Homo sapiens: one gene and its partner. The protein of the gene in region 1 interacts with the protein of each later gene in a pairwise test. Each region holds a gene or a part of one and is shown in the gene's direction. Other genes may lie near its edges.

What was found.
Region 2: the proteins of TFF3 (region 1) and ZSCAN9 interact in a two-hybrid assay, tested with the Homo sapiens proteins (one study listed by BioGRID).

Annotation. Positions count from the first base shown.
Region 1 is NC_000021.9:42,313,228-42,316,977, reverse strand, and holds the start of TFF3 (trefoil factor 3 precursor), read left to right. Parts: upstream 1-1,568; 5' UTR 1,569-1,603; coding exon 1,604-1,685; intron 1,686-3,346; coding exon 3,347-3,493; intron 3,494-3,750. UniProt on the Homo sapiens protein: Involved in the maintenance and repair of the intestinal mucosa. Promotes the mobility of epithelial cells in healing processes (motogen).
Region 2 is NC_000006.12:28,223,716-28,227,465, forward strand, and holds the start of ZSCAN9 (zinc finger and SCAN domain-containing protein 9), read left to right. Parts: upstream 1-1,559; 5' UTR 1,560-1,651; exon of another isoform or gene 1,652-1,968; coding exon of another isoform or gene 1,969-2,291; exon of another isoform or gene 2,292-3,216; coding exon of another isoform or gene 3,217-3,369; coding exon 3,370-3,750. UniProt on the Homo sapiens protein: May be involved in transcriptional regulation.

The DNA of each region.
Region 1 (3,750 bases):
AGGCCGCCCTGCACACACCACCGGGGACCCCAGCTGCAGGCTAAATCCAAGCAGCCAGGCGCTCCCATTTCTCGGGGTGATAAACCAAGTCCACCCTTCAGACAGAGGCTCCTGGAAGGGCCAGTGGGGGTCATCAAAATGCCTCCCTGGAAAAGAAACACGGAGAACACAAAATCTAGGGGCCCGTTTTCCTGGAATGAGATTAGTCTCTTGCCCACTACCAGCCAGTCCACTGCAGGAGGTTGGGGGGTTGGGGGATGCTGCGGATGCCGAGGGCGGAGGCTTAGGGTCCTGGGAGTGGGTTAAATACCAGCTATACCAGGGACACTGGAGTAACCTCTGATAGGCACCGGAAATGTTGAGTCTTAGTTTCTTCCTCTGGAAAATGGATAGAATCATCGCTGTCTCATCTGATATGTTGTTATAAAACAATTCCTGAGATGTAGTCTTTAGTTTTTAAAAGAGCACGCTGGGCAAAGGTGGAGAGTCAGTTCCTGTTTGTGTTAAAAATGTGGCCGAGTGCAGTGGCTCATGCCTGTAATCCTGACACTTTGGGAGGCCAAGGAAGGCAGATCACTTGAGTCCAGGAGTCTGAGACCAGCCTGGCCAACATGGCGACACCTGGTCTCTAAAAAAATACAAAATATTAGCTGGACACATGCCTGTGGCCCAGCTACTTAGGAGGCTGAGGTGGGAGGATCACTTGAGCCCCGCGAGGGCGGGGGTCTCAGTGAGTTGAGATTGTGCCACTGCACTCCAGCCTGGGTAACAGAGCAAGACCCTGTCTCCAAAAAAAAAAAACAAAAAAAAAACAAAAAAAAAACAAAACAAACAAACAAACAAAAACAAACCAAAAAAACGTGCTTAGATCCAGAGAGAAAAATTCTGAAAGGATACCTAAAAAAGTGTTCACAATAGATCAATAGATGCCTCTGGATAGGAAAGGCTCTTTTGTATTATTTGATTTTAAAAATCAATTATGTGTACCATGTTTTTACTAACATATTTTCAATCAATTCATTTCATCCACTTATTAAAATGTAGTTACTAATTTTTAGGGGAGAAAGCAAAAAGGAAAGACAAGGAATCTCTGTGTTTCAGGAGTTGTGAGAGAGCCGCAGGGTCCTGACTCACTCAGAGCTGCCTGTCTCCGAGGCCGATCTGGGATGAAGCAGCCTGGGGCTCTCTTGTCATGGGACCAGGGGTGTTCTGAGGGCTTCTGGCTGGGAGGCTGAGATGGAACGGACACCACACCCTGGTCCTGCCACCCCACATGGCTCCTGCACACTACACCAGGCCAGGCTAGGAGGGCAATTGACACACATCCGCTCCCCAGTAGAGGACCCGGAACCAGAACTGGAATCCGCCCTTACCGCTTGCTGCCAAAACAGTGGGGGCTGAACTGACCTCTCCCCTTTGGGAGAGAAAAACTGTCTGGGAGCTTGACAAAGGCATGCAGGAGAGAACAGGAGCAGCCACAGCCAGGAGGGAGAGCCTTCCCCAAGCAAACAATCCAGAGCAGCTGTGCAAACAACGGTGCATAAATGAGGCCTCCTGGACCATGAAGCGAGTCCTGAGCTGCGTCCCGGAGCCCACGGTGGTCATGGCTGCCAGAGCGCTCTGCATGCTGGGGCTGGTCCTGGCCTTGCTGTCCTCCAGCTCTGCTGAGGAGTACGTGGGCCTGTGTGAGTACTGCCCTGACTGCCCCGGTGGCAGGGTGGGCGTGAAGGGAAGGGATCCAGGATAAGGGGGGATTCTGCATTCATTTAATAATGGCCACCTGTCACATATACACTTTTTCCTGCGCTAGCCCTTTGAAGTGGGTCTTTATTGTCCCCATTTCACAGACAAGGAAACCGAGGCTCAGAGAAAGTTAACAACTTATCCAAGGCAGCCCTGCCCAGTCTGTGTTGAAATCAGGGTTTGAGCCTGAGCCCATCCCCTATGACCCCATAGCCATCTTTGCTGGAGATTTCTAAATTACAATATAGGTCTTTATGCATTGTTCCACATTTACAAAGAAAAAGGAAAGATGCAGGAGAAAAACCCTGACTTCAGAACACTGTCAATACCGGCAGGCACAAGGTTCATTTAGCCATTGCATAGCAACCCTGCCATGGGGTGTGGCTGCTCCATTAACCCAAGTTTGAAGGAATGAGGGCATGGCTTTTATCTGGGTGTCTTCTGAGCAGGGTCAAAGGCAGTGGTTCCCGAACTTGCAGCCCATTAGAATCACCTGGAGAGCTTTAAAAATCCTAATGCTTGGGGCACACCAGTTACATCAGGGCATCTCCAGGCAAGATCCAGGCCTCAGCTGTTTTGTTTTGAGATAGCCTTGCTTTGTCACTCACTGCTGGAGTGCAGTGGCACAATCTCAGCTCACTGCAACCTCCGCCTCCTGGGTTCAAGCAATTCTTGTGCCTCGGCTTCAAGTAGCTGGGATTACAGGCATGCACCACCATGCCCAGCTAATTTTTTGGATTTTTAGTAGAGATGGAGTTTCGCTATGTTGGCCAAGCTGGTCTCAAACTCCTGGCCTCAAGTGATCCTCCTGCCTTGGCCTCCCAAAGTGCTGGAATTACAGGTGTAAGCCACCATGCCCAGCCAACGTCAGTCATTTTTAAAGCTCTGCAGCTGATTCCAGTGTGAGCGAAGTTTGGATGCCAGGAGGATAAGCAATTACGGACTGGGAGCAAGAGAAGGGAATGTAAGACACTGCACGTGATTGCCATTTTCCTAAGGAAATACTCAGTTCGTTAATGAAACGCAGTGAACTTCTGCTGCACATACAGACATAGAGGCTTGCCTGAAACATGAAAATATTGGGGACTGAAGGATGTCCCGGGAGGGTGGGACATGCTCAACAATTCAGGAAGGGGAGATGCAGAAAAAAGTGAAAAGCAGGCAGCATGCGTTGCAATGATCTCTATGGCGTGTGCCTCTCCTGTCACGGTTTTCATTTAAAACAAAGGGGCAAGGTTTTGTTGGTCAAACAATGAAGGGTAACTTTGTTTCTGGGTTCAAGGGACCCCAGATTCCCCAGGGGTTCCTGCCAGCTGGAAGGTACCCAGGTCCGTATGTGACTTCCCGAGAAGGTGATAAGAGCGTGCCAAGGAGAAAGACACTTAGGCAAATGGCCAGAGTCCCCGAGCTGAGCATTTAACAGACTGCCTCTCTTTAAATATTCACAGGGAAAGTGCATCTTCCTAAGGGCGAGGGTTTCAGCAGTGGTTGAACTCGGCGGGGTGGGGCGGAGCGGGAGGATGCAAACTTGCAAAGTGAAGCAAACACACTCACCGCAGCCCAGCAAGGGCTCTGGCAGCTGACAGGGCTTTGTCTGGGACAGCTGCAAACCAGTGTGCCGTGCCAGCCAAGGACAGGGTGGACTGCGGCTACCCCCATGTCACCCCCAAGGAGTGCAACAACCGGGGCTGCTGCTTTGACTCCAGGATCCCTGGAGTGCCTTGGTGTTTCAAGCCCCTGCAGGAAGCAGGTAAGGCCCCAGTGGCATCGTGGTCTGGGCCCAGCCCCATAAGGCAGGGGGTCTCAGGGCCTCCCTGTCCTTTCTGGGCTGGAGATGGAGGCACAAGGACCCCAGGAAGCCACACACACACACCTGTTCCAAGGCCTCAGAGCAGAGGCTTCACACTTAGGGCAGCCATGGCCAGGGGCTGTCCTCTTCTGTCCCCTTTATGTAAAACATAAAAGCAATTGTTTCAAAAAGGTGTTCAAAATGATGGCATCGCATAG
Region 2 (3,750 bases), on another chromosome or scaffold:
AAAATGGAAAAGAATAACATATTTAAACAGTCTATTCAAGTCCAAGAGAAATTGAGCATTTACTCTCATTTCATAGTTTGTTAGGAAAGTTTGTAATGAGGGATTTGCAAGTGAACATGGTATGGTGGAAAAAGTGATGAGGATTTTTGAGCAAATTTTCTGCATGTTAGTGCTCTTATTGATTATATACTTATTGGATATTTGAAAGAAAAAGAAGTAAAGCATAAAGCTTGGGTTTATTTAATGCCCTCAGAAGGCTAGGTTGAGGAAAATAATAAAGAAATTTTCCGAGCTACTACCGTTTTGGAGTTAAAACAGATCATGGAGCCTCCATTAACACACAAGATACTTTCTTACTGCTTTAATAAAATAAATGATAAGATTCTGTTAAAACAAACAGAATATAGTTTAATCTACGTGACACCATCATTCTGGTTGGCATAGTAAAACTGATGAATGACTAACAGTACCTACAATTACGCTCTTTTGTACCAATAAAATTTATTTAAGGCTGGGCATGGTGGCTCATGCCTGTACCAGCACTTTGCCAGGCGGAGGTGGGAGGATCACTTGAGGTCAGGAGTTAGAGACCAGCCTGGCCAACAAAGCGAGACCCTGGTCTCTACCCCCCTCCCCCAAAAAAAATGCTGGGCATGGTGGTATGTGACTGTAGTCCCAGCTACTCAGGAGGCTGAGGCAGGATTGCTTGAGCCAGGAGTTGCAGTCTGCAGTGAGCTATGATGGTGCCACTGCACTCCAGCCTGGGTGACAAATTTATTTAATTGGTTTTGGTTTGATTTTGTATTATTATTACTAAAACTCCAGAAAACTTTTACAGCAAAAAAAAAAAACAACAAAAAACAAAAACAAGAAAGAAAGAAAAGGAAAGGAGGATGGGAGAAAGGCAGGAAGGGAGGGAGGAAGGTAGGAAAAGAGGAAGGGAGGGAGGAAAGAAGGCAAGCACGCAGGCAGATGCCTAAATAAAGAATACATAGGGGCCTGGACAAATAAATTGCTTTATGGACTGTTATGCACCCATACAATAAGTTAGACTTACATGATGAGTAAAGCTTTTTAGGATACATGAAGTGAAAACGTTAAAATAAGCGGGGGAGAAAAGGCTAAATATAAAATAATGCCATTGTGTGTGTGAGAGAGGATCACAATGATATACAAATTCCAGGCTAACGGTGACAGTGGCTGCCTCGGGGAGTGGGACTAAGGAGGGGTAGGTGGGGTTTGACATTTTACTTTATTAATTTTGGTATTGTCTGAGGGTTTTTAAACCATAAATAATGTATTAATTTTAAAAATGCTTTTAAAAATCATCATTTTCAATAGTTAACGGTCTATGCTTCATCAACGTTTTCCGTTTAAAACCTGTGTGCGGCCCACACACGTATGACATTCTGATTATGTGATTCACTGCTGAAAAAGAACTGGACGCCAGGAAATTGGGGGTTGAGTCCGAAGCAAGGTGAACGCCGGACATCGAGACATGGAATCCTAGACCGGCCCGGAAGTGCCTCTGCTCCGTCCGCCTTCGAGGAGAGGTCGGCATCTTTGTTCCCTGCCCGGCCATTGTTCGTGCCGCGCTTCTAGCAACGCCGGGCCGGTAACCCCCTCTCCCTCCTTGCGCGTTCCGGGTCTCGTGAGTTGGCTGTGGGGACCGGGAATGGAGGCGGGTCAGGGAGGGTGGGGCTGGAAAAGGGGTGTGGAAAGTGAACCTCAGCCGCTGGGAAGTGGGAGCCGGAGGAGGGGGCGGCGGTCAGTGCCGGGCGGCTTCGGGCGTCCCCTAGACCAGAGTGGTCATCCCCAGCTGTGGGGACATTGTACAAGAAAGGGTTGTAGGAGGACTGCGAGGCTGAAGGGTCACCTCGGTGAATAACGACAACAGGCTTAGGACTCAGGGAAAGAAACACCCGGGAGAGGAAGTTAAGGACAATTAAGACTTTGGCAGCCTTCACGATGGAGAACCTGTATACCCTCTTACCTCTAGATTCTGAAAGCAAATTAAGGGGCGTTGAATGGACTGGTTTTCAAGCGCAGAATGTAGCAGTTCCCGATTCCCTTTTCCTTAGTTCATTGATTCTCAAACCTTATAATACATACAAATCACTGAGGAGCCCGTTAAAGGGCATATTCTGGGTCTCCCTGTACTTCTCTCCACCTCCCAATTCAGATTCCCCAGATGTCTGCCATAGGGCCTTTCAAGCTGGAATTCAGCTGCTGCGCTGTGCTTCCTGGCATTTTGGAGACACACATTTTGGGAACACCCCCATGGGTTTCAGGTGCTTCCTGCGTCTGTGGAGAAAACTTTTCCCTTGGGCTTCTTTGGCTTCTTAGGATTGTCCTCAAAAAGAAGTTGACCTTGGGCAATCTACTTAACTTTCCCTGGCTTCCATTTCTTATCTAGTGAAATAATTATTATAATAAAACCTCAGTGGGTAATTGTGAGGATGAAATATAGTCTTGTATCTGAAAGCATATTGTAGACTTGTGCAGTGTTGACTGTTATTCTTCAGTAGCAGCAGGGCGGTGTGGAAAGCTCCAGGACTTGGAATCCACCTAAGCCTTTCTTTCTGTAAATTTAGTGAAAATAATACTAACCTTAAATGGTTGTTTTGAAGATTAAGAAAACTGAAGTAAATAGTAAAGTAAATGTTGGTTCGTTCATTTAGTCGACAGTAACAATATTTCCATTTATTCTTTCTCTAAGTTGATGTTTATACAGTGAGTTCAAACTTTTTATTCAGACTTTCTGAGTGATCGGTGCAGTCCCTAATTCATGGGCTGTTTTCCTCCATGAACTCTGTGAAGCATTATTGCTATTTCTTCTTCACATAAAGAAATCAAGATTGAAAGAAGATTTAAAAACTTGGCACAAGGTCACACAACTAGTAAATATTAGGATCAGAATAAAACCTAGGTCTGGGTCAGCTGTGGTGGCTGACGTAATCCCAGCACTTTGGGAAGCCAAGGTGGGAGGATCACTTAAACCCAGGAGTTTGAGGTTGCAGTGAGCTGTGATTATGCCACTGCACTCCAGCCTGGGAAACAGAGTGAAATTCCCCATTTAAAAAAAAAAGAAAGAAAGAAAACCCATATCTGGGTAACTTAAAAGCTTATGCTCTTAGCACATTATGAATATATATATTTCCATTATTTCCATCCTTTGGTCACCAAATCACTTTTCAGAGAAGAGCTTTAGGGCCTATGATAATTGCTTGTATTATCAGTTTCTGTCATCAGCTATTATCATTTTTCTATATAAATAATTTATTTTTACTGCTTAGGCAAGCGCCTCCAAGGTTTGTCTTGAAGCATAGCTCCAGCTGGAGGGTACCTTTTAAGCTGTTCAAGGTCAAGATGAATACAAACTCAAAGGAGGTTTTATCCCTGGGTGTTCAAGTTCCCGAGGCATGGGAAGAACTTCTGACAATGAAAGTGGAAGCAAAAAGTCACCTTCAATGGCAGGAATCCAGACTGAAACGCAGTAATCCACTGGCAAGGGAAATCTTCCGAAGGCACTTTCGACAGCTGTGCTACCAAGAGACCCCTGGACCAAGGGAGGCTCTTACTCGACTCCAGGAACTTTGCTACCAGTGGTTGAGGCCACATGTGAGCACAAAGGAGCAGATTTTGGATCTGCTGGTGCTGGAGCAGTTTCTATCCATTCTGCCCAAGGAGCTCCAGGGCTGGGTGAGGGAACACTGTCCAGAGAGTGGAGAAGAGGCTGTGATTTTGCTG